Regions from separate parts of the Homo sapiens genome. Here region 1 is linked to region 2. Evidence: fine-mapped expression QTL. A gene starts in region 2. The other region holds a variant in brackets. All regions are shown on one strand. Distances are from middle to middle.

What was found. PIP is the estimated chance that this variant, and not a neighbour inherited with it, causes the effect.
Region 1: its variant is the best candidate, but not a certain one, in a credible set for the expression of NR2F2-AS1 in nasal epithelium (TOPMed, PIP 0.86).

The regions. Positions count from the first base shown.
Region 1 is chr15:96,288,568-96,293,950 of GRCh38, forward strand. It overlaps NR2F2-AS1 (NR2F2 antisense RNA 1), which reads right to left. Exons shown (of 5, transcript NR_125738.1): 2 at 2,063-2,216. Among named protein-coding and RNA genes, the nearest start is that of NR2F2-AS1, 36 kb to the right of the region's middle. The variant G/A (reference allele first, on the strand shown) is at 2,315.
Region 2 is chr15:96,324,827-96,330,209 of GRCh38, forward strand. NR2F2-AS1 (NR2F2 antisense RNA 1) reads right to left here and starts at 2,292. Exons shown (of 5, transcript NR_125738.1): 1 at 2,130-2,292. It also overlaps a transcript of NR2F2 not described here.

The sequences.
Region 1 (5,383 bases), 36 kb before region 2:
TCACTGTGCCTTATGTGCTTGTGCTTAACACAGGTGTTTAACGAAAATGCATTTCTGCAGATGTGAACAAAGCCTCTCATTATGCTGTCCACTCACCTAGCAAAGCTTCTCTCTTTATTACATAGTCAATTACACTGCCAGGCACAACCTTTGATTCTTGGTGATGTATGCCATGCATTTTTTTCATTCTAACATGAAAAATCCAAAAGGTAGTTGTTAGCCATGCAACCAAATACAAGTGTTCACAATGGTATGGTATCATATTAATGAAAACATTGAAACTAAATTATGCATTATACTTGCTTACTTTACCGACCTCAGTTTTCCAGGTGTAGACAACACTCTGAAGAAACTGCATCAGTATTTAAATTATTAGAGATACAGGCCAGGTGCGGTGGCTCATGCTGGGAATCCTAGCACTTTGGGAGGCCCAGGCAGGTGGACCACTTGAGGTCAGGAATTCAAGATGACCAGCCTAGCCAGCATAGTGAAATCTCCATCTCTACTAAAAATACAAAAATTAGCTGGGCATGATGGCGTGTGCCTGTAGTCCCAGATACTCTGGAGGCTGAGGAAGGAGAATGGCTTGATCCTGGGAGGCAGAGGTTGCAGTAAGCCAAGATCGTGCCACTACACTCCAGCCTGGGTGACAGAGCGAGACTCTGTCTCAAAAAAAAAAAAAAAAAATTATTAGAAAAAGGAAAGTCCTCTCTCTGAGGTATAAAGAACATTCTGGAAGCCAAAACAGAAAGGGAAATTTTAGTTTAAATCTTAAACCAGCAATAAACCTAAAATTTTCAAAGTTTCCTGAAAAAAAGATAAAATTAAAATATATACAGCAAAATGTTGAATAATGTTAATATATGTGTTTTTCTGGAGAGAGAGAGAAAGAGAAACCATAGATTCCATTAATATCTTCAGCTATGTTCTCACACAATATAAGTTAAGAAAGTTAAGGAACACTAACCTAGGACCCAGTCCAAAAGAAAATTCTCACCTAAGTCTGGACAAAGTCCTTTCAAAGTCCTTTGCAACTACATGTAAGACTTGTTCCCTTGAACTCCTTAAATTAGCAGAATAATATCAATTAGATTCTTTTGGTCAAAAATCATTCATATAGGGTCTAATCCCCATCCAGAGAAAAAAAAACCTTAAAACATTTAAGTGTTGAAGGCTACCTGTCATTTTATTAACTGGTTGCAAATACGCTTTTTTAGGTTTGGCCGTTTTCTCAGTCTAAGCTTTCCTATTTTCTCATGTGGTTATTATAAGAGAAGAGCTTCTCTGATTTTTGTTTGCTGGTGTGGGTTTTTTTTTTTTTTTTTGGTTGTTAATGTTTGTTTTTTACTTATAACCACATATTATGAGGAATGATAAGGTATTATAAATTAATAGTGTAAGCTCTGTAATCAATTAGGATGGGTTGAAATCTCACACTAGACTCCAAATAAACCAATTAGTCTCCCCAGGCCTCTCTTTTTTAATCTATAAAATGGAGATATAATAATATCCACCACACAAAGTCTGTGTACAAAATAAATGAGACAATGCCTGTAAAACATGTGGCATTGTGCTTGTCATATATTAAGTAGACAATAAATATTACCTATTAGTATGACTACGTATATTTTGCCTATGTATTTATAAGCATTAAGAGTGCATATCCTGTTTCCTTATTATCACATAGTTCTCATACATTTTTATGGGCCCTTGATGCACACTGCAAATGAATTTCCAAAAGGATTTTGCTAATATATCCTATCAGCAATATGACAGTGTCAGTTTTACCACTCCTTGGTTAAAAATGGGAATTACTATTAACCAGGAATAAAAGAAAAAGACCAAAAAAAACAAAAAAAGCGGGGAAAAAAAGGAAGGCAAGAAAGAAAAGATAATTTAATTTTTTTTAAATGTGTACATGTAAGCTTTTGCGTTTCTATATCTAGGAAAAGAAATCTGTGAATGTTCAGATTTCCATTCGACATCAGCCAGTTTCTTTCCAAACACTTTCTCAAAGTGTCGTACTTCATCTTTCAAAAAGCCTCATCCTACAGTCACACACCTTGTAGTTTTCCGGCTGAGGGACTCACAGAAGGGAACCGTGGTTTCCTGGTTCTCTGCCAGATGTCCAGTGGTCCCACGAAGGCCAGAGATTCAACTGCCTGCCACTCTTGTGAAGATGTTGCATACAGGACGATTCCCAGAGGAACTGGGACCTGGTGAGGCCAACACACAGATATTTTCTTGTAAGGTAGGATAAGGCAGAGTGACACAGCCCGCATCTGACCACAAGTCATGGGAGGTGTAACCCAAG[G/A]TGGCTTATCACCTGAGCTCTGAAAGGGATAATCTGGGAGGAACAGTTGGTTTGTGCAGCTTTTCAAGAGACTTAAATAATACCTGGTTTTGTGGGAAGAGAAGGAACAAAAGAAAAGAAAGCAAAACCCTGGGCACGATGGCTCACACCTGGAATCCCAGCACTTTGGGAGGCCAGGGCAGGCAGATCACGAGGTCAGGAGTTCAAGATCAGCCCAGCCAACATGGTGAAACCCCGTCCCTACTAAAAAAACAAAACATTAGCCAGGCGTGGTGTCGGGTGCCTGTAACCCCAGCTACTTGGGAGGATGAGGCAGGAGAATTGCTTTAACTGGGGAGGCGGAAGGTTGCAATGAGCCGAGATTGCACCACTGCGCTCCAGCCTGGATGACAGAGCAAGACTCCCTCTGTCTAAAAAAAAAAAAAAAAAAAAAAGAAGAAGAAGAAGAAAAGAAAAAGAAAGCAAGAAAACACTTTAGTTGTGGGTACTGGATTTACTGCATGTCAGAGTGGGGAGATTGACAGTGTTGACTTGGAAATATTCTAATTCTAGGCAACCAAATGGAGGCTTTTCCTCACCTTCTCCACACCAATGTCTGGCTGGCCCCCTCTTTCTTTTAAAACAGTTCCTGGGGAGGCCCCAAAATTCATCTGATGTCTGTATGAGCACTGTTCTAATAAGAAAACAGTGACCTCCCTGTTTTTTGTTTTTTTTTACTTTTTTATTTTCTGGTTTTTGTTTTTTGTTTTTTTGAGATGGAGTTTCCCTCTGTTGCCCAAGCTGGAGTTCAGTGGCATGATCTCAGCTCACTGCAACCTCCGCGTCTTGGGTGCAGGCAATTCTGCCTGAGCCTCCCGAGTAGCTGGGACTACAGGCGCGCACCACCACCACGCCCGGCTAATTTTTTGTATTTTTAGTAGAGATGGGGTTTCACCATGTTGGCCAGGATGGTCTCGATCTCTTGACCTCGTGATCCACCCGCCTCAGCCTCCCAAAGCCTCCCTGCTTATTCACACAAATCCCTGAATAAGAACTCTCTTCCAGGTGGACATGATTTATAGGGCTGATTCAACGGCTTCTCCTACCTTAATTACCATGAAGGACTCACATTAAAATGCTTAGAAAAGATGAGAGTTGGGCTCTTTTGACTTTTGCTGGTGGTGTGGATTACCTGCTATATTCCTGAATCTGGCGCTTGCTAAAGAGGTTGAGAGGATTTGCACTCCAAGATGGGGACCACTGGCATGACCTTTTTCCTTGGCTCTGTGGTCAAGCCACCCCCTGCTCCACTTACTACCTGAGTGACACCAGGCAATCATTTCACCTCTCTAGACCTCTGCCACCTAATTCAGTACGTGGAGATAGTCACACCTGCCTTGCAGAGTTATTGTGAGGGAAGCACCAGCTTCTGGTACATGGGAGATTTTATTTATACATGAACACATATATGCTTGCATACACACAGATGTGTACCGCAGTTTTTGAAAATCATCTCCATTTTTATAGCTCACAAGGTGATTTTTGAAAAGTCAATCAAGAAAAGAAGAAAAAAACCATTTTCCTCTCCAACAAGAAAAAGCAATTAAACGTCAAATATTAACTGTTCCCTGGGAGAAAATTTTTTTAATGGGTTAAAGGCTTGGCCATTATAGACCTCCAATATGTAATTTCTAAGAAAGGACCAGGTAATATATTTTTTTAAATTAAGTGGAAGACAAAATGCTGGAACCAGTGAATCCATTCAGAAAGCGCTTTTTTATCCATTTTCCGTAGCTTCCCAATTGCATCATGCCTTTTAAGAGGCCCAATTTGTTTAACAGCATTTTATTTTAAACCTTCACTTGTGAAAAGCATTGATTTATGATAGGGCTGATTAAAGCAATGGTGTCTTAAGCAATAATGATTTCAATTATAGGACTTTCACCAACGTGCATTATTCTGATTTGCTCTCCATTCTTGCCACATTTTTATTCACAAAGAAAGGGGTAGGGATAGGTGATGTAATTTTGAAAAGTCCCTGGACAAATTTAATATCAGAAAGGAATGTATAGACAGATGGACTGATGTACCTTTTTTGATTATGTGAATGTATTGTATTTTAATAAGCTCTGACAAACTCTTCAACAGCTCCCTGATGAGCTCCTACTTGGTATCATTAGGGTTATTTAGTGCTTAGATTCGGCTCAATTCCCACTGGAGCCACACTGAGGTTGTAGAAATGTGCACACTACAGATTCACTCGAAGCCTAGCACTTAGAGTCTTATCTTTTTGTGAAGCTGGAGAAAACAATTAAGCTCACACTTAGATCTTTAACTTGTTCAAAGTCAACAGCCATAGAAAGGCACACTAGGCTGGGTGTGGTGGCTCACCCCTGTAATCCCAGCACTTTGGGAGGCCAAGACACGTAGATCACTTGAGGTCAAGAGTTGGAGACAAGCCTGGCCACTGTGGTGAAACCCTGTATCTACTAAAAATACACAACTTAGGTGGATGTGATGGTGGGCACCTGTAATCCCAGCTACTCGGGAGGTTGAGGCATGAGAATCGCTTCAACCCGGGAGGTGGAGGTTGCAGTGAGCTCACCCCCCTGCATGTAGAGACATGGCAAAACCCTGTCTCTACAACAGATACAAATATTAGATGGGGATGGTGGTGCTAGTTCCAGTTACACAGGAGGCTGAGGTGGAAGGATTGCTTGAGCCTCAGGAGATAGAATCTGCAGTGAGCTATGATCTCACCACTGCACTTTACCCTGAGCGACAGAGTGAGACACTGTCTCAAAAAAAAAAAAAAGAAAAAAAGAAAAAATGTGAAGTCAGCCTGGAGTCATATGCAACGGAATTCAGGGTATCCATCTAAATCTAATTCAGAATGCAACCTAACATGGTGGGGGTGGGGGGTGGCGTTGGGAGGCGCAGGGGGTAATCTATCACATTTATTAATAATGGCAACCTGTGAAGGAGCCCTGCCTAACGGGGGCTGCTATTCCTAATAGTCACTATGCACAGCTGTTGACCAAACAGTGCCACAACTTCGGAATTCAGAAATTCATATTGTTATGCAAAGTT
Region 2 (5,383 bases):
ACCTCCTCCCCAGAGGAGCCTCACCATCCATCCACTCAGTATAACTGATGAGACAAACCGCAAGGAAAAACTTCTGTAGCCCATATTTATGGTATTAATGAATAGTTAAAAAAGATTTACACTTCTTATGATCAATATTCTGAGTTATTTTGCTCAAAGTATATAATTACAGTGTCTTCAGAGTTTTCATCATTGTTTGAGGTGGCAAAACCATTTGTAATTTTCATTAGCCAGTAAACATGTAATTAACATTCAGCACTGTGTTTAACTTAATTCCTGTTTAAGACAAGGACAAGAAGCAGCCGAAGAGCGTTAGTTCCATTTGTCAAGTCTGACATACATCTTACCATAACAGTTTCCTAAAATAAAAGATCCGTGTTTCCCCATTATTCTTCTCTTAAAACAAAACAAAACAAAAATCCATTAGTTAAGACAGTATTAAACTGTGAGAGGCAGCATAGTTTATATTCAATTTTCACTAGTTACCGTATTCTTGCTTCCTTTATTCGTTTTGGGGAGTAGAGAAAGGGAGGGGGTGAATGAAGCATTCATTATCTGAAGGCATGGAATGGGGAACCCCTCCCCCCAAAAGAAATAGATTTCCTCCTCAGGAAAGTTCTAGAATAAGGACCGGAAAGGGGGGAGGCAGAAATCCACAGGGGAGAGGGGGAAAAATCACTTGGGGAGACTTGAGTTAAAAGTAGAAAATGAGGATTCCAAAGGATTCCTAGGAAAAATGTTGCCCTCTTGTCTCAAGTTCTATCTTTGATCCAGGACGAGGGAAGCCTGTCTGCCAGTCTGCGAGGCTGATGCTTTTTCCCCCTCCTCTTCCACCTCTGTTTTTTCCCAACTTGCTTTAGGATTAGCCTCCATCTCTCTCGACCCCAAACAGTGGAATTTGGCTGTGCCTTGGGTCGTCTTGCTTTGCAATATCGCCTATAGTTGTTGGCGGTTTTCTGCTGAGGCTGAGCCGTTTGCTCCAGCCTCCGACTAAACTCATTAAGTTGGGAGATTTTTTTCAATTGGACGGGTGTTTTTAAAGTCTCGTCTTTCCAGCCCCAAACAAGGTGTAACAACGCACTCTTCCTTCTAAGGAATGAGATGAGAGACAAGGATCACTCCAGACATCTCCTACCTACGGTTTGGGGTTTTTTTTCTTAAAGGCGAGGCTTGCATTCCTCAGCAGCTATGTACAAAGCTCCCTGAAACCTTGTCTCTCTAAAGTTAGTGTGCAGGGTTTTCCAAGGCTGAGAGAGCCTAATACATGGGGAAGCACTTCCTTGAGGTGGAAGATCTCTCCCTTCACCTTTCCTCTTTTTCCCTGCAGGCTAGTGCCTACTTTTTATCAGTTTGCACAATCGCTTAGATAAACACCGAGGAGGAGATTCTCTTTAATTATCAAAGACACATCTTTTCAGGGGGCCAACAAAGCATTTATTTCACCCGCCAAACTAAAGGAGAGTTATTCCAGTTTAGGAGGAAGATGCAAGCGGTTTGGGACCTTGAACAAGGCAAATATGGTTTTGGTATGTTTACTTACAGTATTTTTTCTCTCTCTCTTTCCTTTCTCACTTTTCTGCTTGTGCTGTGTGGGGTTGGGGATGACTTGGGGCTTTTCAAAATATCGGTTTGCTAACGTGTATGAAATGCCGAGGACTGTGGTTTAAGGGGTTCGGGGAAGGGGGGATCAGAGTCAATTCAATGCATTGCCATATTTTATTACATGTGTGTGGTAGGAGAGATGGTGGAGGGGGAGGGGGGAAAATACAATTGCAAAGCTGCCAAAATATGATTAAACCGAAGCGTTAAGACTGCGGAGCCTCCTATCTCCTCGTCCTGTCTCCTCAAACTCATTTCCTTCCACAGAGCAAACTAAAAACCAGTCCTATAAAGCGTGGTTTTGCAAGCAGCAGATGACTCGGTTTTCTAGCAAAGGAGCTGCTAGGCTCGCACTAAGTATCAGAATTTACTGTTCGCTTTGCCTCTGCGCTTCATTTTGCAACCTTGTGCAACTGACAGCCAGGCAGGCAGGGAGGGAGAAAAGCCTAGCCCGGCGCCCTCGGCCACGGTTCGGGTAGGCGAGCGCTCGGTTAAGCTAGGAGGAGAATCGCGACGAGAAGGGTACTCACCATCGGGCGGGGCGGTGGAGCTGGCGTGCGGATTTCAGGCAAACGTTTACCTTTTTGCTGTCTATTGCAACCGCGCCGGGCTGACTTAAGAAGCAATTCTGTGCTCTGTCCAGAACATTCAAGGAGCGGTTCCTCATTTTTAAAAAGCCAGCGAGAGAGACGACAGAGACAGAGAGAAAGAAAAAGAGAGGAGGGGGTGAGGGGGACGCACATAAACCCAGTTCAAAAAAAAAAAAAAATCACCTCTTCGCCAGTGACTCGGGAAACGCAGAGGTGGCGAGATCCGAGTACGGTCCAACCAAGCCAGAGCCAATTAATTTTAAATCCTGAAGAATTATTCAGATTAAAATGTACAGAAGTTTCGTTCTCCTATGCCTACGTGAGTCCAAAGTCGTTTCCCTTTAAGAGCTCCTTTTCTTTTAAAGTTGAATTTTAGGCAGCGAGGACTCTTACACTAGGGGGCAGACAGATACTGTACTTGCTCTAATCTTAAGCAATTTTTTCCCTCCCAGCATATGCTCTGATTTAGCACTGTAAATTTTTCAGAGGACCTAACTCTGACAGCCCCTGGTGATTTTCAAAGTACCACAAGCCAGTGGTTAAAAATTGCATTGACTTGGAAGTTCAGAGGGACACAATGGAAGCCCCTTTCCCTATTCATGGAGCTCCAGTGTGGTGGAAGAGAAAAACACACACGGACTAGATTGAGGGAAAGGAGGAATTCAATGAATCCTGGAGGACGGAACTGGTTTCTACTGAGTTCAGAGTTAAACTCGGCATTTGCTGGGGTCTGTATTCATATTGTGATTCAATCTGTAAAGAAATACAGCCCATCAGGCCACTTTCTGCAAGAAAATTATATTCCTGGGTGTTGAGTTTCTTTCTTTTCTTTTTTAGATTAGGGCAAATGTTGTCCCAACTTTCTCTAGGCAAATTAAAGCTTGCCATTCTTCTCATTATAATAAATTTACATCTGCAAAAAAAGACTGAGTTGGATTTTTAAAAAACAACAATAATATATTGATTTTATCTTCTCAGAGCTTTTTAACCTTAGACGCACAGCAAGTGAGCATCTCTGGAGAAGACATTTAAAAATATTTTTGCCCTTTTTTCTTCTCAGTCTGTAGTCTTGTCTCTTCTTCTATGCATTAAAATTAAGTATAATTCATACGGTGATTTTTTTTCTCCCTTGTAACAGCATTTCATAACTGAATGAGTCCTAAAATACAGAGTGAAACACCCCTGACTTTATGGCAGCCCTGTGATCATTTGCCTAGCAGGCTCCAATTTGTTAAGATATGGTTGGGAAATTATTCCATTTTAATCTAAGGCCATCACGCATACTTCAAATTCCAAAAATCTCTAAGTGGACTGGGGAAGCTCTTCCTCCTCGATATTGTTCCTTCCCATGTTTGTAAAAGGTAATCTGCTATGGAAGTCTCATTCAGGAGGTGAGATGAAGATTTCCCTATAATCAATTATTTTCATCCTCTATTGAGATGGGAATGCCCATTAGATTTCCTATCTCAACCCCAGTCTCATCACATCTCAGCTGAGCTTGTCCCGAATCTGCTGACATTTGTAACATTAGCAATTCCTGAATCATAGAGGTTGGAAGGGAAAACAACAACAACTACCAAAAACCTTCTCCTGTGTAATGATTTCTTTTCCATCCTTCTTATCCTCTTTAGGAGAAAGTTATATTGTGTCTCTAATTAACCTGAAATTCTCAGCTTGGCTTCATTCTGTGGCAATCTTATTACACACCAGGTTTATGATAGTTCAGTGTCCACTATAGGTTTGCTGGGCTTTTTTTTTTTTTTTTAACAACTTTCAAATAAACCGAGAACCTGCAGCTTTAGTGAAATACGTGATTTCATCGGAGAAAGAGTGAGGGCTGAGGTTTCGGGAATGAAGCTTAAAGAAGATTTTTCCTTTCCTAAAAACCAGCCCCTATCTGCCCAGATCTTTAGTCCTTACCTCATATTCTGCCTATGTGTGTAAAGAGAATTGAATGTAAAATGTGATCTATGCATGTCAATTATATGTATGGTTTATTTTTAAAATATCTTTACCCTGTCAATTTTTTTTTCAGCTACCAAGGATGTTTTCTGTGGTCATCAATTTACTCTTCATATGTGTTCATTTCTTTCCTGGAGCTCAGCGTCTTTTGTGTAAAATATTTTAATTGTTCACAAACCTGGTTGGTTTACCGGCATGAGGTTTTTTCTTGGTGCAAAGTGTGTACAAAGGAGACACAATTTTCTTGTATAAATGTGGAATAATGATAATTCACTAACTGGTCATAAACAACAAGTTTACTGCGTTGGAATATAGTGTGTTCTGAGAGCAATTCTACATGTTTGATGTTTAAAACCAGACACCCTGGAATTCAAAGACACAACTGTCTCAATTATTTTAGCACATGGAGCAGAATGGCAATAGGCTATGAAGTTGTTCTTTTTGCAGTGACTTCTTGAGGTAGAATATGGCTTGGGTTTGGTTCTTGTGACCTGTACTAGTATTATTTCCCATTTGGGGCAGAATCTCTGGGTGCGTTTTAATGACTATATGAATGCTTAAAAGGAACTTGAGGAACAATGAAGTCCGTACTCAACTGTTCTATGACCTAGAAGCATAGTCGGTGAAGTCTTTGTCTGTGTACATTGACAAATGTGCATCTGATACATGTGCGCTTACATGTGTGTACAGAGGGTGTGCACAGGGGAGGCTGGGCGGCTGCCTCCTCCTGTCCATCAGTGGGCAGAGGTCTTTCCCCTCTCACCATGACTGGGTGTGTGGCAGGATGTTGGCTGGAGAGTTAGCTAAAACCAGCGAGAGAGGGTAAAGTTGAGGAAAATTGATTCTAATTGCATCATGACAATCAGATGAAGTCTATTTCTGCTTCTCAGCATCCGAGATGCTTTATTTGGGCAATTAAAATGTCAGGCCACATACCTGTGAAATGTTAACCCTACAAGGAATAAACAGAAACAGAACGGCCTTTATCCTCTGAAAAGAATATATGTCATATATATATGTCACCAAACCGAACAAGTGATCAGAGTTAATTAAGAGAAGGGTTTGCCATCACCCGGATCTGGCCAACTCTTTCGTTTGGAAAATGCCTACAAGCTCAGTTCGTGGCACCTTCCCACCCTCACTCCCTATCCCTCTGCAAAGAAACCAGGGAACTTTTCTTTGGCATTGTGGGTACTAAGATGCGCCAGGAGTCCCGGGTGGTGCGCGAGCGG